Linked DNA regions of Homo sapiens: all the other regions are linked to region 2. The links come from fine-mapping of genetic effects on gene expression. A gene starts in region 2. Each other region holds a variant in brackets. All regions are shown on one strand. Distances are from middle to middle.

Region 1 (4,000 bases), 26 kb after region 2:
ATAGATTAAAATTCAGAAAATACAGCTAACAATGAAGAGCTTATCCCCAGTAATGTTAAATAACAGCACAATACTAAATAAAGATGCAGTAAGGTGATTAAAAGGCAGCAATGCTTTTGGTTGCTTTAGCAGAAATAGGAGAACCAGCGAGACAGCAGTTAGAGTGAAAGTGTATGTAGGGGTTTGCGAGACTGTGCACAGGGATAAGAAGTGAGTACGGCACCTCCTCTCTGATTGTTCAGCTGTAGCTATCTTTTACAATTTGGTGAGACTATTTTTGTGTCAGGCTTTCAGAACCCTGGACCTACAGCCAAAATATGAATAACCAGCATGTTAACTTATCTTAATATTTTAGATACTTCTGACATTGTGCACATTTGGTGTCCAGAAGGAATGAAAACCAGTGACATCAAGGAGTTGAATATTGTTTTGCCTGAATTTGAGAAAACCCACCTAGAGCATCAGTAAGTCTTTTGATGATGTGCTATATTTACCTAATAAATTTCCCCTGAAGCACCATTTTTGCTCATCCTACAGTTTTTGTTATGTACTATTTTCATTGTCATTGTTTTAGATATTTTTACATTTTATTATAATTTTTTCTTTAATTCTTTGAAGAATTCATATGTTTTTATTTGTCCCAAATATGTAGACTTTTAAATTTATATTTTTGTATTAACCTTCTATCTTAAATATGTTGTGGTCAAAGATCATGGTCCAGTGATACCTTTTTTTTTTTTTAAATTTTGAGGCTTTCTTCATGACCTGGTACATGATCTGTGTGGAATTTCTAATCATTAGATCTAGATAGAATCTCTAATTATTGGATCTATGTTCAGTTTTTCTTGGTACTTCTATTCATTTGTGCTGTATATATTTAGAGACTATTAGGAAAATCATGTTTAAAATTGCTCTGTCTTGCAAATTGAACATTTTAGTTGGTCACCCACTCTATTCCTAAACATACTTTGTCTTAAAATTTATTTTACCTGATACTAATATGCATCATAGTTTTCTTTTGCTAGCATTTGGCAGATTTTTTTTTTTTTTGAGATGGAGTCTCTCTCTGTCTCCAGGCTGGAGTAGAGTGGAGAGATCTCGGCTCACTGAAACCTCCACCTCCCGGGTTCAAGCAATTCTCCTGCCTCAGCCTCCCAAGTAGCTGGGACTACAGGCATGTGCCACCCCGCCCAGCTAATTTTTGCATTTTTAGTAGAGACAGGGTTTCACCATGTTGGCCAGGATGGTCTCGATCTCCTGATCTCGTGATCTGCCCACCTCAGCCTCCCAAAGTGCTGGGATTATAGACGTGAGCCACTGCACCCGGCCAGATTTTACATTCTTTTTAATTTCTTTTACTTCCAACCTTTTTGCGACCTTAAATTTTAATTTCCTTATTAGTCTTTTTAAATACAGTGTATCAGTCTTTGAATTTCAACTGTTTAGTCCATTAACATTTATTGTAATATCGATATATCTTGAACAATATGTTGATATATTGTTACTTCTTTAACTTTTTTATTCTACTTTTTGATGTTCTGAATTTTTTTTAACTTAAAAAAGTTGTATTTATAACTCCCCACCTTTAATTCTAAATTAAGGTAGATAGAATTTCCCCTTCTGTTGTGTGTGTCTGTCTCTGTTTTTAAGACAACAACAAAATTCACTTAGGTATTTGATCACTTTTATCTCATATATTTTCTTGCAATATCCTGTAGATAAGTATTTTCTCATATTTAAGCATTTCATCCAACACCTCAGTGTGACTCTTTATGTTGCAAAACTTCTAAACCTTCTGATTATTTTGATTATACCCTTGAATTTGAATGACAGCTTAGCTGGATATAATACTTTAGGTTCTAAATTATTTTCTTAAATACTTTGGAAACTTTGTATTCTTTTACATCAAGTGTTGCTTTTGGAAAATTTGATGTCTATCTAATTCTTATTTCTTTGAATGTGATCTGTTCTTTAGCTCTCTAAACTGTTATTTTTTTTCTTTGATATTCTTAAATTTCACTATATTGAGTCTGACCTTTTCATTCCAAGGTTTTTTAATTTTTTATTTTTTTATTCTATTGCTGCTGAACAAATTTTTTTAATTCTAAGAATTTAAAATATTTTTATCCTGATTTTCTTTTTTGTTCTCTTATCCTTTGCTTCATTCACTGGGAGATTTCCTCAATCTAAGAAATTAGATTTGCTAATTTATTCTTAGAAATATCCATTCTGCCATTTGTCCCATCTGTTGAGTTCTTTATTTAACTTAGCTTTTATATTAATATTTCTGCTTTTTTTTTTTTTTTTTTTTTTGAGATGGAGTCTCACTCTATCACCCAGGCTAGAGTGC[C/T]GTAGCGCGATCTCAGTCCCTGCAACTTCCACCTCCCAGGTTCAAGCGATTCACCTGCCTCAGCCTCCCAAATAGCTGGGATTACAAGCATGCGCCACCACGCCCAGCTAATTTTTTGTATTTTTAGTAGAGATGGGGTTTCACTATGTCGGCCAGTCTGCTCTCAAACTCCTGATCTCAAGTGATCCACCCACTTTGGCCTCCCAAAGTGCTGGGATTTCAGGTGTGAGCCACCGCGCCCAGCTATTTCTGCTGCTTGCTTTGTGTCTTGTATTCATGTTTTATGCTGCTAATATCTTCCTTAGAATATCTGTTGGGCTAATTTCAAATTACTGGATCAGCTATTCTAAAATACCTGCTTCTGGTAAGGTTTCGGATATAATATGTGTTTTCCGTTTGAAATAGTTGGGTTCCTCCAGCATCCTGTTATTCCAGCCTCTGAGCTTATTTTCCCCTGGGCCTGTCAGCTTCTGTCAGACAGTATGTATAGAAGAAGGCCAAACCCCAGTCCCTGTTAGTGCCCGTCAGTGCAGGGGGTGGGGTAAGCCCTAGGATGGGCAGCCTCAGCGACTCATCTCACAAAACAGCCTGTCAGGTCAGCACTTCACTCCTCGCCCTCCAGAGAGGAGCAGCAGGAAGAAAAGATGGACTCTGGGTCATCATTCTCCAGCATGGGGGTTTGGCTGGGGAAGGGTGAGGAAACAGCTGCCCAAAGTCAGTCAGCCTCCCATGTTTTTCTCTAGGCCCCACAAGTCCAACCCCAGTTTCAGTCTTGAGGACACAGGGACAGAGGTCTCAGTTGCTGCAGGGGGCAGGGGAGCGGGGGTGAGCAGGCACACTATTGATGAGATCGGTGATGGGAAGAGGCAGGAGTCAGTTTCCTGCAGCTCTCTATTCCTGCCCTGGCCACAGCGCCACTCCTTACAGCAGTTATTCTCTCTACATGACCTTCCCCTCAGGGTTTTCACAGCTTTCTCCATTTTCTTGGTATTCCCTCTGTAGTTCTGGGTGAGCTTGGGGAAAGGAGCCAGCCTGTCATGCCAACTCATCATTATCATTGTGAGAAGTGCCTGTTTTACTCTTCTTTATATTCCAGAGCCAGTTTCCTGTTAAAACTAGGACAGTTCTGTTAACACACCCAAGACCATCTTGCTTGTGTTATCCTTTACCTATTCACAAATCTCTTATAGGAAGCTTATTATAGACTTCTGATGTTTTAGGGAAAATGGCATTGTCCCCTTCTAAATCATTTCTTATATCAAGAACTTACCACCCAGTGGGTAGTAAGGACACAGGGACAGAGGTCTGAGTTGCTGCAGTGGGTAGTAAGTTCTTGATATAAGAAATGATTTAGAAGAGGCATAGTATTTTTTCTTAGACTTATTGCAGTACAACCTTGTGTTTTTGTCATACCAAATAAGAATTCTGGTGAATCACTGATCTCATTTTGTTTCCTTGACAATATGGTGTTCTCAGCCACGTGAAACACTTCACTCTTTCAAAATTAAGTCAACAACTGTTTAAGGGTCTGTTTGTAATATCCTGTACCTAGCACTCACACCTGAATAGCTTCACTGTCATATCAGTATGAACTGATGATAAGCAGTTTATGTATAAGTAGGGAAGTATGCCATGAAATGCAACATTACA
Region 2 (4,120 bases):
GACCCTGCTGATCGGAATAGTTGCACTCACCGACGCAGCAGCAGAAACACTAGTTTTCCTCCCAGACCACATGGAGGACCAAGGAAGGTCGGATTTAGTGGCCCTTACCAACACATTCTCGAAAAACTGTTAAGGGTCCTAAGCATTCTCCTGTTAGTATTGGGACTTTATCCCTGTCCTATAAAGATGTTATGCCCCAAAAATGAAGTGGAGGGCCATACCCTGAGGGAGGGAAGGGATGTCCAAGGCTGGAAGAGTGACACCTTTTATCTTCACTTACATGAATAGGAAGGATACAATTTCTGAGGCTCCTCATAGCATACCTTCAGGAATAGCTTTTGTTAGGCCTGCTTGTCTGAGGAGGGATCCTAAAATTCCAGAAAAGATAGTCCCCCCCACCAAGATTGTGCCATTGCACTCCAGCCTGGGTGACAGAGCAAGACTCCATCTTGAAAAAAAAAAAAGAAATTAAAATAAAAAATATAAATAGGCCGGGCGCCGTGGCTCACGCCTGTCATCCCAGCACTTTGGGAGGCTGAGGTGGGCAGATCACGAGGTCAGGAGATCGAGACCTTCCTGACTAACACGGTGAAACCCCGTCTCTACTAAAAATACAAAAAAATTAGCCGGGCGTGGTGGCGGGCCCCTGTAGTCCCAGCTACTTCGGAGGTTGAGGCAGGAGAATGGCATGAACCCGGGAGGCAGAGCTTGCAGTGAGCCAAAATCAGGCCACTGCACTCCAGCCTGGTCGACAGAGCAAAACTCCAACTCAAAAAAAAAAAAAAAAAAAAAAAAAGAACTTACTCATGTAACCAAATAGCACCTGCACCCCAATAATTTATGGAAAAATAAAATAAATAAAAAATAAAAGCAATAGCTTTAGTAAGAAAGGGCACTTGCAGCATACCTACCAAATATCATATAAAGTTTAGAAACATACAATAATCAATACATTATTTGGGGCTATATCAAGGTAGAAAACCACAGGAATGATACACATAAAATCAGAAGAGTGGTTATTCTTTGGAGGAGGAGGATACCATTCAGAGGGGTACCCAAGAGTTATATATAAAAATGATCCATATCCCCATGTAGTGCTGGTTACACGGATGTTTGTTTTTATCTTTACATTACACGTTATATTCTTTCATATGCATGAAACGTAATATTTTTGTCGTAGTAAAATATACATAACAAAATTTAGCATTTTAACCGTTTTTAACTTTACAGTATTGTGGCATTAAGTACCTTCACCTTGTGCATCCATCCACCACTATTTCCAGAACGTTTTCATCATCCCAAACTGCTTTTGGTATCATATCCAAGAAATCATACCAAGTCCAATGTTATGAAGTTTTTGCTCTGTTTTCTTCTAAGAGTTTTAATTTTAGCCTTTATAGTTAGGTCTTTGATTCATTTTGCGTTAATTTTTATACGCGGTGTAAGGTAAGGGTTCAATTACATTCTTCTGCATTACACATTTTTAAACACAAACAAAATAAAAGAACAAAAGGAACCCTGTCCATTTACAAATGAAGGTATTGGGATAGCGGTAAAGTAACATGCTAAGCTCAGACAGCTGATAAAGGCAGCAGGGGCTGGAAGCCAAATCCTGTAGGCCTGGAAAGACGACTGCGGCCTCAGCGACAACAGCTGCGAACACGGGTCTCCACCCACCCTCTTACCTGCCCACGACTCAGGGACACTAGCTCCTCCCCTTTCCCCACCCCACAAGGGGCCGTCCCACGTGGCTCCCGGGCTTTCTGGCGCCGGAAAACTGGCGATGCGGGTGGGCGCGAAAGCCCGGAAAACTTTGGCATGTTTTGGACCGTAGGTAACTGGTTGTGCGGCATGGACTCCAGCTCCGTTGCGCTGTAATAACCAGACCCAGTTTTCCCTCACGCTCCAGGCCAGGGAGGAGCCCGGGGGCCGCTCAGGAAGTCCTGCGCACGCGCGCGTGCTCGGCCCGGATTGGCTGTTCGGAGCGGCGAGGGGCTTGGCGGGAGCTTCCAGTCGCTCGAGAGCGGAGAGCGGCACCATGGCCCCGCGGGGGCGGCGGCGGCCGCGGCCTCACAGGTCTGAGGGGTAAGTACTGCCGACCCTCGGGAGCGCGGGGCCGGAGACCAGCTTGAACTGCTTCCTCGCCTGCCGTGGTTTGCGCCTCCCGGCGCTGTTGGTGCTCCACTGTGGAGGTCGCCCGAGTGGCCAATCGCCCGGGTCCCCGGCTTCCTCCTCAGTCTAGTGGGGATAACAGTGATCCCACCTGCACGGGCCTGTCGGGGCCTAACACTGCCTGGCGGGTGGGAGAGACGTCAGCCAGTGTCGTGTCGTTTTGTGGGGAGGGGGAGTGCCGTCCAAAGTAGTGAGTCTCAAAGTGCTAGCTTGAAAGCAAAATATTCAGCAAATACGTATTGCCTGCGGTTTGCCAGACTTTGTTAGTGGAGTTTTATTCTCTGACTGGGAATCAGTTTTCTTATTTTGAAGACCCTGGTGTTTTCTTACTGCAAACCACAGACCGTAAACTGGAGCATAAATCCGGCTGGGGGACCGAGCTGCCGCTTGCGGTTCTCCAGGATGGCTCGAGCGGTTTTTGTTTACCAAAGAAAGCGAGCGTTTGGTCGGTTGCAAAACGCGCTCTAGAATGCTGGTCGCTGATTCGTTGGCGAATGGCCATCCAAGGCCCGGCCTGGATCTGGCGGGAAGGGTCTCGGCTTGCTGCAGACGGTGCACAAAGCCATACGCCAAGACGATCTGAAGAGAACAGGAGTTCCCCCGGGCCTGGGAAGGCTGCCTGGAGGAGGAGGTGCTGGTAGATGCGGGGTTAGGGTGGAAAAGCTGGAGCAGGACACCGCAGGTGGGTGGGGAAACCGAGACCAGACTTCTGTGGCCAGTGGAGGAGAATGAAGACTCCCCCAGTGCAAAAAAGGATTAGAAGAGAATGTCAGCCTTCAATGTCAGCTGAAAAGAGTTTATCTGAAAGGCTAGTGGTTTTTGTTGTCTTTTTTTATTTTTATCTTTTAACATTTTTGGGTTTGAGACTCATGAAATCTGTTCATGCCTCCTCCCAAAACACACTTACGCACATACAACAGAATTTTTTTTTTTTTTTTTTTTTGAGACGGAGTCTCACTCTGTGGCCCAGGCTGGAGTGCAGTGGCGCAATCTCCGCCTCCCAGGTTCAAGCGATTTTCCTGCCTCAGACTCCAGAGGAGCTGGGATTACAGGCGCTCGCCCCCACGTCCAGCTAATTTTTGTATTTTTAGTAAAGACGGGGTTTCACCATGTTGGCCAGGATGGTCTTGATTTCCTCACCTCGTGATCCGCCCTCCTGGGGTTCCCAAAGCGCTGAGATTACAGGCATGAGCCACCGCGCCTGGCCCAGAAATTTTACCTGTGGGTTGTCACAGAGGTTTCTGTCTCTCAGAAGCCCCACCTTGACTCCAGCGTAAGGCAAGGAGGAACCTTGACTTTTTTTCCCCCCCAAGAAAGGACAAGACAGCTCAAAGAGTTTAGGTTAAGAAGTTTATGTGGTCTAGTGTGTAGCTGGGTTTCTGTTACCTGGCTATGTGACCCTTGATAAGTCACTTAAATTTTCTGAATCCCGGAATCATCATCTATAAAATTGCCATAAAACCAATACTTGTCTTACCTGCTTCCTTAGGTTTCATGAATTAAATAAATAAATCGTGAACTTGTTAGAAATGCAGAATCCCAGACCTCACCCCAGAGGGACTGAATCAGACACTCCTGGGGTGGTGCCAAGCAACCTGTTCAACAAGCCCTCTTGAGAATTTTGATGACACTCAAGTCTGGGAACCACCGCTCTGAACAGTTTTCTAACTTTTTTTTTTTAACTGTGATTCACAGTAATGATGTTTTACATCACACTTAGTACACGTGTGCACACATCCACACATAAAACAAAAGGCTTGTGAACATAGTATATCCAGTGCAATGCTTCATTTTATATTTTCCTTTTTTATTGTTTGTTTTTTTAAAAATGCTGGCCTGGCAATCTTAAAAGACATTATAGGACAATTGATGTGATTTGGGTATGGACTGTAGATTAGATTATGGTATCAGTGTTAAATTTCTTGATTTTAGAAATTGTACCATGAAT
Region 3 (4,137 bases), 33 kb before region 2:
TCTGGGTTTATAAAGCAATCTCACATGAGTTGCTGTACCTAACGAGTTTTAGAGGTGTGCCTAGAAGGCAGGCCACGCTGAACAAAAGCTTTCTGAGCTGTAATTGTTAAACAGTGAACCATGGTGTACCTTTCTCGTGGTTTCTGCTTCTAAGACAGAGAACATTTGTACTTCCCTTGTGTCATCTTTTGAATCTTTTCTTTTTAAATTTTAAAATAGGCAAACTGTCAGGTCCATATGGCTTGCCAGCATGGTTTGTACTAGACAGGAAAAAAATCATGCAGTGTATTCTAGCTGAATGGCAAGCCACTCTGGTATTAGATACCCTGGTGTCACAAATTCATCATACTTGGTGGCCTTTCAGAAACTTCTAGTTAGATTCAAACAAAAGAAAGTGAGACTTTAACAAACTTGGACTCTAGGCAAGAAGTTAAGTTTTTATTTTGAGAATAAATTAAATGTAAAGTTTCTGGAAGGCTATATATATATATATATATATATATTTGAGACAGAGTCTCCCTCCGTGGCCCAGGCTGGAGAGCAGTGGCACAATCTCAGCCCACTGCAATCTCCGCCTCCTGGGTTCAAGCGATTCTCCAGCCTCAGCCTCCTGAGTCGCTGGGACTATGGGCACCCGCCACCAAGCCCGGCTAATTTTTGTTTTAGTAGAGATGGGGTTTCACCGTAACGTGGCCAGGCTCGACTGGAACTCCTGACCTCAAGTGATCCACCTGCCTCGGCCTCCCAAAGTGCTGGGATTATAGGTGTAAGCCACCGCGCCCAGCCACTAAAAATATTTAGAATATGTAATACCATGTCATTCATTGAACAGATACTTACCACCGCACTAAAAGAGTAGAACCTCTGTGGTCATCACTAAAAACAACATAGCCTGGTTTTTTACTGAGTCCCATATCTTCAGGATAACCAAGAGAAATACCACATTTCCATGTTGTACAATGACTAGTAAATGCACATTTTTTTTAAGTTACCTATATTTAGGAAATTTAAGATTTCTGGAAACTGGCCTGAAATGCTAAAACTGAAATGTTGGATGTTGTCCATATGTTGTGTAACCCCTGCTGTGGTGATAAAATGTTTGTTTTTTCCATTACCCCTATAGTGTGTAATGCTGTGTCATGGAGCTAAAATCGGATTTTTCCAAGGAGATATCAGGCTGCTCATGGATGACCTCAAGGTGCTTCAACCCACTGTCTTCCCCGTGGTTCCAAGACTGCTGAACCGGATGTTTGACCGAGTAAGTTCCAAGCAGCGAAGTCCCAGGACTGAGCACTGACTTGGACGCAGGGGCTTGGGCTTGAATTGGGCTGTGCCATGTGCCATCTGTATGACCCTGGACAATCCTCCCAATCTTACAGAACTTCAGTTTACTCATCTGTAAAGTTAGAATGCGTTTACCTCTCAGAGTGGCTGATAAGGATTATAAGAGAAAATGCATGAACACACTTTGTAAACCATGGTCACAACACAAGCATAATGTGGGAGGTCATTTTATTTTTACAATAAACACTTTGAGCCTCTGCTTCCTCATGTGTAACACGGACTGTTTACCTCTTCTCTCCTACTGTTTGTCTCCAAAAGTTGCTAATGGGATCACGTAAGAATAGTAACTATGAAATGGTTTTCTTCATTGTAAAGCTCCTTGCATGGACATGTAAAACATTACTTAATTGGCCACACTGAAAGAAGTGACTAAGCCACAGCAGAGCCCAAGAGAACACCAGCCC[C/T]TCTGCGGTGGGTATCATTGCGTGGACCGCACAGCCAGGGCCAGGCGCGAGGGGCATGAGCAATCTCCAGAAAGAGTGTTCACTTACTCTTTATTTTGAGGCAGGACTTTTGTTATCTCTCAGAACGTTCTTATGTTTTTAATGGTTCTTTTTAAAAGGACAACTTTATCAACATATAATACTCTGTATAATTTGCTGATTTAAAGTGTGTAATTCAAAGGTTTTGAGTACTTTCACAGTTCTCCAGCCATCACTACAATCAATTTTAGAACATTTTCATGACCTCCAAGAGAAACCCTTACCTATTCTTTATCAGCTCCCCGACCCCCTCCACCCTTCAGCATCCGCTCATCTGTGTATTTCTCTATTCTGGACTTTTCTGTGGATGGAATCATGCCATATGTGCTCCTTTGTGACTGGCGTCTTTCACAAGCATCCATGTAGCACGTATTAGCACTTCATTCCTTTTAACGGCCAAATAGTATTCCACTGTATGGGTATAACGCATTTTATTTATCCATTCCTTTTTTTTTTTTTTTTTTGAGACAGGGTCTCTCTCTCTGTCATCCAGGCTAGAGTGCAGTGGTGTTATCATGGCTCACTGCAGCCTCCACCTCCAGGGCTCAAGCAGTCCTCCCACCTTAGCCTCCTGAGTAGCTGGGACCGCAGGCATGTGCCACCATGCCCGGCTAATTTCTGTATTTTTTGTAGAGATGGGGTCTTACCATGTTGGCCACACTGGACTCAAACTCCTGAGCTCAGGAGATCTGCCCACCTCAGCCTCCCAAAGTGCTGGGAATACAAGCGTGGGCCACCGCACCTGGCCTACACATTCCTACTCGATGGGCATTTGGGGATGTATGTGTCCATTGCTCCTGGGTGTATACCGAGGTGTGGAATTGCTGTCCTGTGCTGACCATGTGGGGCCGTTAGAGGACCGGCCAGGCTGTCAGAGCAGCTGTGCCATTTTGTGTTCCCCAGCTGTGTGTGAGGGTTCTGATTTCTCCACACTCTTTGACTCTGGCCATCCTAGTAGGTGTGAAAACTTTCTCATGTCTTGCCTCATTAGATTTTCGGACAAGCAAACACCACGCTGAAGCGATGGCTCTTGGACTTTGCCTCCAAGAGGAAAGAAGCAGAGCTTCGCAGCGGCATCATCAGAAACAACAGCCTGTGGGACCGGCTGATCTTCCACAAAGTACAGGTAACACGTGACTCACAGCCACTGCTCCCATGGAAACCGACTTCGCTTTTCAGAGTTCTGGGAGGGCCTTTTTTGTGAGAGGGAGAGATGAAGGTAAGGGAGAGAATAACATGTTTTTGTTAATTCTGGCACACATTTAAAAACTAAGGCAAAGCCATTAAGGAGGCCTCAGTTTCTAAGATCAATAGTATTGCAGCCATCTAGGGGGAAAAGGAGTCAGGGTAGTGGAGCCTTTCTCATTCTCCATTTTGTTGCGTTTTTCCGGAACAAGCGTGTCACTCTTGAGGTAATTTTTCAAGCATGAGTGATAACGTGTAACAATATCATGCCCCCCAGAAGGCCAGAATTGTGGTAGTTGCCACAGATCTGCCCAGTTGTGTTCTAATTCCCTGAAATAGCTTCTGCAGAGGTGGGGCTGACTTCCATCCCCATTGGGAGGGAACAGGGCAGTCACGGGTGGAAACAAACCGTAGCCCTGTGCTGCCATCATGAGGGCTGTGAGTTCTCCGTGTGGCCTCCGTGTGGTCTGCAGCTATGGGTTAGGGAACGGGGTCCCAAGCAGGCCCCCTTGGCGGAGAGGCCGCCGACTTCCAGGTGTGTAACCCTCACCTTCTCCCACTCTCCCTCCCTGAAAGTCGAGCCTGGGCGGAAGAGTCCGGCTGATGGTGACAGGAGCCGCCCCGGTGTCTGCCACTGTGCTGACGTTCCTCAGAGCAGCCCTGGGCTGTCAGGTGAGGTGGATGTCACGGCGCCTGATTCTCCCACACTAGGATGCCCAGTCCTCTTCTGCACCAAAAGTCATCTGTACTGTGTGTGTGTGTGTGTGTTCTTTCTTAATTGACAAGCGTATCTATATTTATGGCGTAACAACATGATGTTTTGATGTATGTAATATGTAAACATTGTGGAATGGCTAAATGAAGCTAATTAACATGTGTCTTACCACCCATACTTTTTTTTCCCACGTGGTGAGAACACTTGGAATCTACCCTCTGGGCAGTTTTCAAGTATATGATACATTGTTGTTAGCTCTAGTCACCACGTGGTGCTATGGAGCTCTTGAACCAGTTCCTCCTGATGGAGACTTTGTGTCCTTTCACCAACATCACCCCTATCCTTCCCACCCCCTACTTTGTGTGTGTGTGTTATGTTTGTTTGGAAGATATGTTATTATTAGGTTGCTTG
Region 4 (4,000 bases), 31 kb after region 2:
TTGGTGTTCTCACTAATTTTTATTTTAGCCATTGTGATAGGTGTGAAGTGTAGAAATATTTTCTTTTTATTGTGTGTTAACTGTGTGCAACTTGTTAAGCAGCCCATCTCTAGAACTAAAGCCTTAGGAAACGGTAGCTTTGTACCCATTCGAGCAATGACTCCTCATTCCTCCCTCCCCCAGCAATCACCATTCTACTTTGTCTCTATAAATCTAACTGTTCTGGGTACCTCATATGAGTGGAATCATACAATATTTGTCCTTTTGTGACTGTCTTATTTCACTCAGCATAATGTCCTCAAGGCTCACCCATGTCATAGCATGTGTCAGAATTTACTTATTAAGGTGGAATCATATTCAGTCATGTATACACATTCATGTCACTTAACAACGGGGATGTGTTCTGAGAACTGCATCCTTAGGCAGTTTTGTCATTGTGTTAACAGTGTACTTAAACCAACTTAGATGGCATGTACTAGGCTTAGGTGTAAGCCTAGTACATGCCGCGGCTATATGATGTGTTGCCTATTCCTCCCAGGATACACACTTGGACAGCATGTTACTGTATTGAGTACTGTAGATAATTGTAGCATGATGGTAAGTTGTGTATCTAAACATAGAAAAGGTACAGTAAAAATACAGTATAAAAGATAAAAAATGAGCCTGGGCAACATAATGAGACCTGTTTTCTACAAAAAAGTTAAAAATTAGGCGTGGTGGCATATGCCTGTAGTCCCAGCTACACGGGAGGCTGAGGCAGGAGGATCACTGGAGTCAAGGAGTTTGAGGCTGCAGTGAGCCATGATCACACTACTCAGTCCAGCGGGGGTGACAGAGTGAGACCTTATCTCAAAAAAAAAAAAGATGAAGTATGTTACACCTGTTTGGGGCACTTAGTAATTTATTACCTAGTATTATGTAGTATACCTAAGTATGTGTGCTATACTTTTACACAGCTAGGCAACACTATAGGTTTGTTTACACCAGCATCACCACAAGTATGTGCATAATGCATTGTGCTATGACATTATGATGGCAACAGTGTCACTAGGTGATTAGAAATTTTTAGCTCCATTATTGTCTTATGGGTCTACCACTGTATGTGCCATCCATCGTTGACTGAGACATTGTTATGTGGTCATGATTTTAACACATTTCCTTTATCCATTCATCTATCAATGGACACTTGAGTTGTTCCCACCTTTTGGCTATTGTGAATAATGCTGCTACAAACATTGGTGTACAATTGATATTCAAGTCCGTGCTTTCAATTCTTTTGTGTATGTACCTAGAAGAGGAATTGCTGGATCATGTGGTAATTCTGTGTTTAATTAATTTAATTTATTTATTTTTTTGGAACTGCCAATACTGTTTTCCACAGTGACTATATCATTTTACATTTCCACCAGCAACACAAGGGTTCCTATTTCTGTACTTTCTCACCAACACTTGTTGTTTTGTTTTTTTTTAATAATAGCCATCTTAATGGGTGAGTGAGCCAAGCCAGGAGAATCAGAGCCTGGCCACCAGATCTCTTCTCCCCAGTGACAGAGACCTGAGGCAGTTTCTTTGAGTCAGCTTTATAGTTTCTGAAGAACTAACACCTGATTTATGGCTACTTTTTGGCTAGTCCAGATGTGTTACACAGTTGCTCCTCCTTTTGCTAACAGGCAAAGAGGGAGGGAATAAAGTCTGCTGGGTCTATCAGTTAGCAG[A/G]AAAAGATTGGGAGTATCCATAAGCATTTCTACCTTACTTGGTATCACCTGTGAGGTTGGTCAGTATCAGGGAATTAAGATGACCCCGTACCAGAGGGCTTAGGGAATAATATGTTTGTTCTTTTTCTTTTGCTGATACATGTTTCCGGTGTTTTTTTCAGGCTGAACATTGCCATCTTAGTTATTTAAAATGGTGCTCTCATATGTTCATTGCAGCATTATCCATGATAGTAAAGACGGAATCAACCTAAGTGCCCATCAACTGTGGGTTGGATAAAGAAAATATGGTACATATAGACCATGGAATACTACACAGCTATAAAAAAGAACAAAATCATGTCCTTTGCAGCAATATGGATGCAGCTGGAGGTCATTATCCCAAGTGAATTATTGCAGGAACAGAAAGCCAAATACCGCGTGTTCTTACTTATAAGTGGGAGCTAAACACTGGGTGCACATGGACATAAAGATGGCAACAATAGACACTGGGGACTCCTAGAGGGAAGAGAGACAGAGGGATTCAAGGACTGAAAACAACCTGTTTGCTACTATGCTCGCTACCTGAGTGGTGGGGTCAGTTGTACCCCAAACGTCAGTGTCATGCAGTATGCCCATATAACAAACCCCTTAATCTAAAACATTGAGATTATTAAAAATAAGAGATTAAAGATATTTTTAAAATAAAAAAAGGTATATGCCAAATTGTATGTGTATGTTTGTTTGTATGCTAAGCAAATGAAACACCTTTCAAAATCCATCATGGTACTTAGACTTTTTTTTAATTCCTCTACAGACAAAGAATAGAATCTAAAGTTTGTAAGGCAGCCATCGCCACATTTTATGTTAATGTTAAAGAACAATTCATCAAAATGGTAAGCTCACGGACATGCATTTGTTGGTCTAAGGTTTTTTTCACTAATCCTGTAGCAGCATATTGTTGTCTTAGAAAAGCTTGCATTTGCTGGCAGTATGGTAATAAACTCATTAGAACTATTCATATTCCACATAACTGTTTTTAAACTAAATGTGACACATGTGAAACTAATTAACATTTACTTTTGGAAACTGATGTACATGTGTATTTTTTGTTTTGTGTAGCTTAAAGAAAGCCAGATGTTGACAAATCTGAAAAGGAAGAATGCTAAGGTAAATTATTTATGTGATTAGAGTCATAGAGTCAAACACAATACTAATGTAGAGTTATGCGAAGACTTGACTCTGGGTTTACAGCCTTTAGAGTGTGAGTAGATTTCATAATCTTGTCAGGCTTTTATTTGGTTGATCTTGTGGTTGATACGGTTGGTATTATTAATGCAAGGTAAGGAATGGGGATCCTAGTCACTTTTGTTTCCTAAGGCTGCACGAGTGTCAAAATAATTGTTTTTATAATTAAAGACAGAAATTTAAGCCTTTTATTAATGTCACAAAGGTAGCTTTAAAAAAACTACCCAGTCCAAAATGACCACTTACATGGATAAATATTAATATATATTTATTGCTTTTGTGGATGTCGAAAAGCACAACCTTTTAGAATAAAGAACTGTCCCAGGTAGGACAGCCTGGGAAGAATACTGGGTTAAGGGTCAGGAGACCTCATGTCTAGTCCTGGTTCTGCTGCTTCATTGCTATACCACCTATAAGCTGTATACCACTGGGTCTGCAGTGGGTGACAAGCCAGCCAGCATGAGAGTCTCCTTTGCTTACCTGGAAATGGTTGGACCAAATGACCTCTGAGCATCAGAGGTGAATCCAGGAGTGGAAGTCCACCTCTACATTTAAAGTAGAAGTGGACTTGAAATACATACGTTTTCCTTCCAGTGATTGCAAGCTCTGGGATGTTTTTGTTTTTCAGTTTTAATCTCTTATTGGTCATTTCTGCATTGCTTATTACGGAGTGGGAACATTATGAATGTCTAACAATGGAGAATTAGGTAGTCACTAAAAGTGACTGAATGTCCGAGATAATAAAATATGAAATATTTCTTTTAAAATACAGAGTGGATCACAACACTCCCCTGCTTTGATAGTTTCCTAGTATGCCTAGATAAAATCTCCTCACTTTACAGGTCACAGGGTCCAGTAAAGACCTGGCCCCTGCTTTCCTTCCTCTGGTCATTCTGAAGTAGATACCCCTGCTTTTCTTTTCCAGAGTTCTCTCTTCTTTTCCTACATATCACAAGCTGTAAATACATACTGTTTCTATGTAATGTCTGTCTTCCCCATTAGACCAAAGTCTGTGATGGTAAGAACTGGGTCTGTCTTGTTTTCCACTGCACTTCATTACC
Region 5 (4,137 bases), 890 kb before region 2:
ATGTGATTAGTAATTGATGGACACAAAGAAATTAGGGTTTGTTTAATAGCTTTCTCCATTTCAAGGACACAATGGTGATAAAATTTTTGTGAATGTATCTTTAAGCTATATATATAAAAGTCCCATTTCCACCATTTAGTGTATTCATTTTCTCTTTTCCATTACTTAATTCATTCACTTTCTCTTTCTGCTAAAACAGTCCTGTATTGAAATTTGAATTACACTATTCAGGCTAACAGTGACTCTAAACTCTATTTTCATAGATAACTTTGAAGTGGCAACACAAGAATAAATAGCAATTGAAAGGCAGAGGACTATTTTTGAGATTTATATAACTTACAGCCCAGGGTGTTTTAATATTTGTGACCAATTATTTTCATTAATTCTTACAGCACATCTGTTCACTACGTAAATTTTAAGAGGCTGGAATGAACATTCCGGGCTGAAAGTTGGTCAACAGAGAAACTTCTATGCACCAGACACTACAGAGTGCTTTACATACATTATCTAATAAAACTGGCATAGGCCTATGAAATGGGTGTTATTTCAAAAGCCATTTTCAATTTTGGAAGTTGGGCCCAGAGAGGAAAGGAAATTCGTCCAAGGTCACACAGAGAGTAGATAACAGAAAAGAGATTCAAACCCCTAATAATTCAGAATTTATAGTATAAAATATAATCTCAGACAAAAAAAAAGACATAATTCACAGTTCATACTAGTGTCAAATATGGCTCGATTGTTAATTAACTTGCACAAATCTACTTAGTCTTTATGTTTGCTTTCACTTTTGCTACACTATACACTTACGTTTATCTTTGCCTACCCTTAGGCTGAAGCAACATGCTTCAAAATAATAAATTAGAATTTAAAAAATCAATTTCTACAATTCAAAATTTTCACTAATTGAAATGTGTCAGAATCTCATTTTTTAATAAATTAGCTACCTTCTCCAGGCTTTTAATATCCTAATATAACCATCTCTCAATTTTATGTGCAGATAGGAGTACATTTTTGAAACGTAACTTGGAAGGGCTTTGAAATGCATTTAAAAGTATTTTGTTTTTTAGTAAAATATTTACTTTCCAATTGTGTTTCACCCAAGTGAAAAATAGCTTATATTCCCTGGGTTAGAAAAAGTAATTTAAAATTTATGATCATTATGAGGCCCTATGATCATAAAAGTATATTAACTTAGAATTTACATCATCAAAGTAGTCAAAATCCTAAAACAATGTTTTCTTATTATGAATCAGCACTTTAAATTCTTTCATAGATGGATAAAATAAATTTTATTTTTAATGCTTCTTGTTAGTCTGGATAACTAGATATATTTAAGGGATAAAAGAAAGAATTGACAAATATTGACCCAGTTGTACTGATAAAATTCTATAACATAGACTACTGGAATACATTTAATGTCTAGTTACATCTCCATATGTAAGTCACGTAAGTGCAAAAGGTATAAGATACTATTAAGAACTACATGCAATCAAAATTTTGTAATGTGATTATTTATGCTTTGCTTTAAGATGAACAAAAATAATTCAATATTTCATAAGCAATTTGGCAACTGACATGATGCTTTCTGTTTATCCCTTTTTTGCTTGGAGTAAGAAGAAACAATATCTCTTTGTTTCTTTGCTTTCTGATAAGGTGTTTATCATCTGGGCACAAAGGAAGGTCGTAGATAAACAGCATGGCATCTTGAGATTCAATAAGTATTTAAAAACAGAGGAAGAGCGAAGAGGGGAGAGTAAGGCAGAAGGAGAATGTTCATCACCACCCTCCTGTCATCCTCATACTTTCTTTGGTTTTATCTCTTTCTTTTTCATTACTACAGTCTTAAATTACTCCACAAAATGTTTCTTTTTCTACAAATTGTTGCTATTTTCAAATTCTCCATCCTCTGTAAATCTTATAATAGTAATTATAAATAAGAAGCAAAGGCATAGAAACAGAAAGCTTTGGAAAAAA[T/A]TTATATGAAAAATCCCTCTAACTATAAATTGTCTTACTGGGTGTGGCAATATAATTAATCAGCAATGTAGTAATCATATTTATATAGACAATTATAATTCTGCAACCTCAGATATTTTTCCTTTTGAAATGCTCTTGTTTTGTGTCTTATTTCACAACTTTGTAATGAACTATGAGTTTTATGCCCATGTGTTCGATAACGGTGTCTCTCCAAATTTGGGGAAAAAAGTAGTGGCCACCAGGGAAAATGGCGGAACAGGTTGGCTTGTAATTAAGTGGATACTCACCATGACTGGCCCTGTTCTTTCCAATAGACCGTGAGTCCCCTAGAAGTTACTCATCCACTTTGACTGACATGGGGAGAAGTGCACCAAGGGAAAGAAGAGGAACTCCAGAAAAAGAGGTAGTTAATTTAATAGCATTGGAGTCTTTCACAGCAACACACTTGATACAGCACTTACCAGCCAAAAATTATCCCAAACCAGTAACGAACTCGGACAGGAAATGTGAAAATACTGAGAAACTAGAAACAATTTTCCTTGGGGCCTGAGCATAGCAACTCTGACCCTAGAAGCAGTCCACACCCTGACCCTAGCTGTGGGTCTTCCCTAGTGGTGGCCCAGTTTTGGCCATGAGGCTTCTCCGAGTCTTGACCTGATGCCCATGAACTTAACCATTATGACCTAAAAGTGTCCTGAGTTAGGGCACCTCGTGGAGGCAATAGGTTTCCTCTACAATTTCTTGGCCCGCTGGTCCAGGAGAAAGCCTGATGTCAACTGTGTTGTAAATCAATACAGAGCCTACAGAAATCATTTTTGCTGGCTTCCTTTTATTGGAGAGGATCCCTAAAAAGAGCTTTTAACCAGCCCAGTTCTCGGGATACTGCCCCTGGGAACCACCCACCAACTGAACTCTGTCCAGGGCCCTGAGCCGGGGCTAGAGTTCTTGCTCAAACTGCCTTGGAGCCATGACGGCTGGATGGAAACTAAAAGCTGGACTTGGACTGGTAGCCGCTCCAGAGGATCTTATAGGCGTCTGATGTAGTCCAGAGCCTGTGGGATCCCCAAAGAAGTTAGAAATGGTCCAGGATTCCTAAAGTTCACCAGAGTCATGGGGGAAAAGAATGGAGTGAAGGGATTGTTGGTTGGTGAGGAAGGAAGAGCTGGCCTAGCTAGCTATAGGGTACAGGGTACCTCAGGGAGATCTGTGGCCCCCAGAGTTTGAGGATGGGCACGTGTCACATCACATCACAACTAAAAGACGAGTGGCTGGTGGACAGAGTGTTGAAGGATTCCTGAGCCCTCTAGGGAATGCAAGATGATCACACCTATACTTTTGCCCACTAACCAGCCTCCCAGTGATAATTGAGCTAATATTTTTTGCTAATATGTTAATAAGTGTCTAATGAAGGGAATGATTACTTCTTTTATGACATCTGGTCCTTTTATTATGATTCAGAGGGAGCTGTGTCAATCTCCATAGAACATAGAGCCATTGACCCTCCACATTTATCCTAGGAAGAGCCTTTGTAACAGCCAAAATGATGCCTAGGATGCAAACCTCTGCAGGCATTTTATTCTCTCATTATAACATTAATCTACCTTAGTTCCTAAGATTAAATATGATGGTGAATAAGCCTTCTATTATATTCCTATTATAGCTTAAATATCTAAATGAAGAATGAATGGACTTATTTATAAATTGCTTACAGGATTAACATTACATATGTTTGATGATTCCCTGAGGTTTCCTTTTTCTTTAAGGCACATTAAACTACTTTCTTGTAGAAAATTCAAATTTTAAATTAGTGCTAATTGTTTATCTTCCTTTTCAGAAATTGCCTGCAAAAGCTGTTTATGATTTTAAGGCTCAGACATCTAAGTAAGTAAGATAAATACTCATCATATGATTTAAGGTGGTTTTAAATGTTAGTAATGCTTTAAGAGATAAGCATTGCAGTAGGATCTGTTACAAATGAGGTCTAATTCCCAATGCAGCAATCTACTCTAATTAAATGGTTCCTTCAGAATTACCTTTTATTTTAAGTTTAGTTGAGAATTACTGAGTTTTAAATTACATTAAACATGTTAGGTAGAACACAATGAATTCTAAAGGATAGGAAAAACAAAAAGAATTTAGGAATATTTGTTTTTAGAATTTTGT
Region 6 (4,137 bases), 70 kb after region 2:
ATTAATTTCTGATCAGGCGTGGTGGCTCATGCCTGTAATCCCAGCACTTTGGGAGGCCAAGGCGGGCAGATTACTTGAAGTCAGAAGTTTGAGACCAGCCTAGCCAACATGGTAAAACCCAGTCTCTACTAAAACCATAAAAATTAGCCAGGCGTGGTGGCAGGTGTCTATAAGTCCCAGCTACTCAGGAGGCCGAGGCAGGAAGATCACCTGAACCCAGGAGGCGGAGATTGCAGTCAGCCAAGATGGTGCCACTGCACTCCAGTCTGGGTGACAGTGTGAGACTCCATCTCAAAAAAAAAAAAAAAAAAAGTCATTAATTCATTTTTTTTAATGGTTTTAATTACCAGAAAGTGTCTAGTTCATATTGAGCCTGACTCCAGCTCTAAGAATACAGCCTCTGAGACTACAAGGCACTGGGCATGAAGGCCATGCACAATAGAAAGGCAGCAAGCACGGGGGCTGGAGTCAGAGACAGGTCAGTGTCAGTTTTGGCTTTGCCATCTGCCAGCTCTATGGCTTTGGTCAAATCTAAACCTTAACATTTCCCAGCTGCTAAACAGGAATAATAATAGCAGCTACCTTTTGGAGTTGCTTTAAGGAATAAAAAAGAAAATGGAAATTTTTAGCACATGTAACTGCTTAAAAAAGCCTTGGTTGTGCAGCCTTAGGACAAGTCCCTAAAGCTTCAATTTTCTCATTTGCAAAATGAAGCTACTAAGAACTACCATGCAATATTATCTTGACATGAGCAAAAATGTTTATGAACTGCCGTCAGTTTAGATACCTCAAAGTTACGCAATAAACTGTATTTTTAATGATATTTTGGGATTCTTCTAACACCACACTGTCCTCATGCCCTCTGGCTTTACTCTTCTGTAAATTCTTTCTCAGAGAGGGCTTCCTTGATTTCCCTCTCTACATCAAATTCCCCCTACATACTCTTTTTCTCTTTATAGACTTACAATTTTAGGTTGATTTATGTGATTAGTTTGACATGTTTCCTCTGTATTACAGGGGCTCTTCCTCCATATTTGTTCTCTCCCTCTGTAGAAGCAGAATCCCAATTTTTTAGCTAGATTGGAGGCCATCCAGAACAAAGACTACATTTCCCAGGCTCCTCTACAGCAGGGTGTGGCTGCTAAGTCTGGCCAATGGGACGTGAGAAGGAAAGTATGCCACTTCTAAGTGATCCTCTAACAGGCAAAGGGCGTACCGTCCCCTTCTCCATTTGTACTGACTAGAATGCAGACACAGTGGTATGAGCCATCTTGGACAATGGAAGAAGGCAACATCTTAGGGACAGCAAAGCAACAAGCCTAGTCCCTAACAGTACGGAGCCACATTAGATATTACTTGGGGGAGAAATAGGTTTCTGTCTTGTTTAAGCCAGTTTAATTTTGGGTCTTTATTATGGCAGCTAAATCTATCCTAACGTATTATCCTCCATTAGACTACAAAGTGTATGCCATCAGACATTATGTCTCTTTGACTTACCACTTGGTAATCCTAGTGCCTGGGCACAGTGCCTGACACTTAGTAGGGACTAAAAACTATTTGATGAATGAAGTCGACTTCTGTACTTTCGGAGCTACAGAGAATAAATTTAGTGATGCTTTAGGTAGGACAAGTAATCATATTCTCCTAAATTCTATTTCCCAAGATTAACTTTAATTAAAACTTTAAGTTACTTAAATAATTAAATTATAAAATCCAGAAGTTAAACTTACATGAGTGGACAATGTTGCCCTGAAATGTGGTCCTAATAAAATACATTAGCACCAGAATTCATTCTAACTGTGGAGAAGGGGCTTATTGAAATGTGTCAGTTTAGCCACTGAACCACAGGGTATTTTACATTATCACCAATTATTATTAACCATCTGCTAAATTAGCATAAGAGCTAACCTAATTATGCCTCCTCACAGTAAGACTCAAAGGAAAAAGTACTTACTGGATTATAAACTTATTGCATACAAAGTAACCAATAAATGAAATTA[AT/T]TTCAATGTAATCATTATAAAAAGCATTATATTAAGTAAAGTAATCCAATGAGAACTGTTCTATCAACATGGTAAACATGTTAAATAAAAATGCTGTATAATTTTGAACTTCGATTTCTACAGTTTCTTCCAACAGTTTTGCTGATGCAGAAGATTAGCTGCTCAAGACTCATTTGGATAAAGTAGTATAAAGAATAAGGAGAAAAAAATTCTAAACACCTACATGGTCTTTGCCATACCAGTGTTTATTAATATGTGTTACAAATGAAATTTGCTCCAGTGTTCATTTCATTAGAAATATTTCTAGTTTCTAATGCAATGTGGTACTTCTTTGCTAATATGCAATGTTAAGTGGCAGTGAAAATCTCTGAATCGAGGTTCCTTGTAGCCCATGGAGAAACTACACAAGAAATCTTACTTTAGACTGTAGAAGAAAGTCAATACTTATGAATTACTAAAAACATAATTAGGCCAGGCACAATGGCTCGCGCCTATAATCCCAGCACTTTGGGAGGCGGAGATGGGTGTATCACTTGAGGCCAGGAGTTCAAGAACAGCCTGGCCAACATGGCAAAACCCTATCTCTACTAAAAATACAAAAATTAGCCAGGTATGGTGGCACACACCTGTAATCCCAGCTACTCGGGAGGCTGAGGCAGGAGAACTGCTTGAACCTGGGAGGCAGAGATTGCAGTGAGCTGAGATCACACCACTGCACTCCAGTCTGGGTGACAGAGCTAGACTCTGTCTCAGAAATAATAATAATAATAATAATAATAATAATAATAATAATAAAGGTTTAAAATTAAACAGAATTTACCAGCTGTAATGAAATAAGCATCTAAATTTATTTTTAAGGGTTCAATGGCTATTTGAAGAAAAATATAATTTGGGGTTTTTTTTGGGGGTGGTGGGGGACTTTATATATATTTCTTCTGCTTCAAAGCCAGGATAAAGCTAACATTCTATATATTTTTTAAATAGCATTCACATACATTTTCACAAAGATTTAAAATCAAGCATGTAGAGGTCCAACAGAGAATACTAGCAGATATTCTTTATCAAAAACATTTTAATCTGGATATATTTTAAAAGTTATAAAATGGGTAATCTATAACATTATTATTCAGTTAACATTTAAAAGAAAAATAGCTAGTCAGTAAGTGTCAGTACCTACACTTAGGCTGAATAATAGTCAATACAATTTTAACACAACTTCCTGTGATACAATCTGAAAATTTTTTTTGAAATAATCCTAATAGAACTTAGCTGCACAAGTCCATGCTATTCCTTTTATTAGTAACTTCCTGGTTGACACAGCTAAATCAAAAATAAAGAACTACAGTATTTTTTCTCTTAGTTAAAAATAGTAACTATATTTTTAGACAAGATTTTACCATTACTAGCTGTAGGACCTTGAATAGGAATTAGTTTCGTCTGGGCCTTAATTTCCTCATTTTGAAAGGGACAAGATAAGATGATTTCCAAAATTCCTGCAAGCTTGAAAATTCTAATACTATTTGTAGTCAGTGTTCTTGAGGTTCATCTCAGTACCCAATTTTTACAGTAAAAATTATTTTGCCTGGTTTTACCAAAGTCAGCTATTCGTAATGGAAGTCAGAGAATTAATATATAATTTTAAAATATAGAAAATTTTCAAACTGACATCTTTTTCAAAGCATTTTTTTTACCAGACAGCAAAATTGCAAACTATATGAACACAAATTGAACTTTCCTTCCTTTTCACAGTTTACTCATACAAGTAATATTAAAAAATCCTAAAGTCAAAAGGAAGAGTAGCAAGAAAAAGAAGAGATACAGAACCTACTATTATGTAGGCTGAATTCACTGAATGAATAAGCCAATGAAGAGATGGATAGAAATAAGAAAAACTTGAGTTGGCCATTTACCTCAATGAGTAATGCAACCATCTTTTTCCCATCAGCTCCTGGGTTGGCAGGTTTGTTAAATTCCAAATCAAAATAAAGCTTGCACACAGCATTTTCAGGAATAACTTCATAGCAGTGTAAGAGATTTTTTCTAAATTGAATAATTCAAGATTGTTAAATTGATATATTATACCTTTATTGATTGATTGATTGACTGACTGAGACTGAGTCAGCTCTGTTGCCCAGG

Alleles and levels. Alleles are on the strand shown, and positions count from the first base shown. SD is a standard deviation of normalised expression in the study named. Not every link is listed here.
As copies of T replace AT in region 6, the expression in monocytes after LPS of the gene that starts at base 2,005 in region 2 goes up (moderate effect, 0.65 SD a copy in Fairfax 2014).

Evidence for each region. PIP is the estimated chance that this variant, and not a neighbour inherited with it, causes the effect. A credible set is the group of variants that fine-mapping cannot tell apart.
Region 1: its variant is the best candidate, but not a certain one, in a credible set for the expression of CENPU in thyroid (GTEx, PIP 0.59).
Region 3: its variant is the best candidate, but not a certain one, in a credible set for the expression of CENPU in whole blood (INTERVAL, PIP 0.82).
Region 4: its variant is the best candidate, but not a certain one, in a credible set for the expression of CENPU in whole blood (INTERVAL, PIP 0.67).
Region 5: its variant is the best candidate, but not a certain one, in a credible set for the expression of CENPU in monocytes after Pam3CSK4 (Quach 2016, PIP 0.75).
Region 6: its variant is the best candidate, but not a certain one, in a credible set for the expression of CENPU in monocytes after LPS (Fairfax 2014, PIP 0.77).

Annotation. Positions count from the first base shown.
Region 1 is chr4:184,706,536-184,710,535 of GRCh38, reverse strand. CENPU (centromere protein U) reads left to right here. Exons shown (of 13, transcript NM_024629.4): 8 at 356-464. Among named protein-coding and RNA genes, the nearest start is that of CENPU, 26 kb to the left of the region's middle. The variant C/T (reference allele first, on the strand shown) is at 2,351.
Region 2 is chr4:184,731,981-184,736,100 of GRCh38, reverse strand. It overlaps CENPU (centromere protein U), which reads left to right and starts at 2,005. Exons shown (of 13, transcript NM_024629.4): 1 at 2,005-2,085. The coding sequence starts at 2,039. RefSeq lists enhancers at 1-191, 2,429-2,548, 1,699-2,565 and a silencer at 1,999-2,058.
Region 3 is chr4:184,765,437-184,769,573 of GRCh38, reverse strand. It overlaps ACSL1 (acyl-CoA synthetase long chain family member 1), which reads left to right. Exons shown (of 21, transcript NM_001995.5): 12 at 1,124-1,258; 13 at 2,818-2,952; 14 at 3,588-3,683. Among named protein-coding and RNA genes, the nearest start is that of CENPU, 33 kb to the right of the region's middle. The variant C/T (reference allele first, on the strand shown) is at 1,749.
Region 4 is chr4:184,700,950-184,704,949 of GRCh38, reverse strand. CENPU (centromere protein U) reads left to right here. Exons shown (of 13, transcript NM_024629.4): 9 at 2,509-2,587; 10 at 2,814-2,861. Among named protein-coding and RNA genes, the nearest start is that of CENPU, 31 kb to the left of the region's middle. The variant A/G (reference allele first, on the strand shown) is at 1,716.
Region 5 is chr4:185,618,303-185,622,439 of GRCh38, reverse strand. SORBS2 (sorbin and SH3 domain containing 2) reads left to right here. Exons shown (of 27, transcript NM_001395207.1): 20 at 2,289-2,377; 21 at 3,809-3,855. Among named protein-coding and RNA genes, the nearest start is that of SORBS2-AS1, 32 kb to the right of the region's middle. The variant T/A (reference allele first, on the strand shown) is at 1,975.
Region 6 is chr4:184,661,678-184,665,814 of GRCh38, reverse strand. PRIMPOL (primase and DNA directed polymerase) reads right to left here. Exons shown (of 14, transcript NM_152683.4): 5 at 3,912-4,041. Among named protein-coding and RNA genes, the nearest start is that of PRIMPOL, 14 kb to the right of the region's middle. The variant AT/T (reference allele first, on the strand shown) is at 2,001.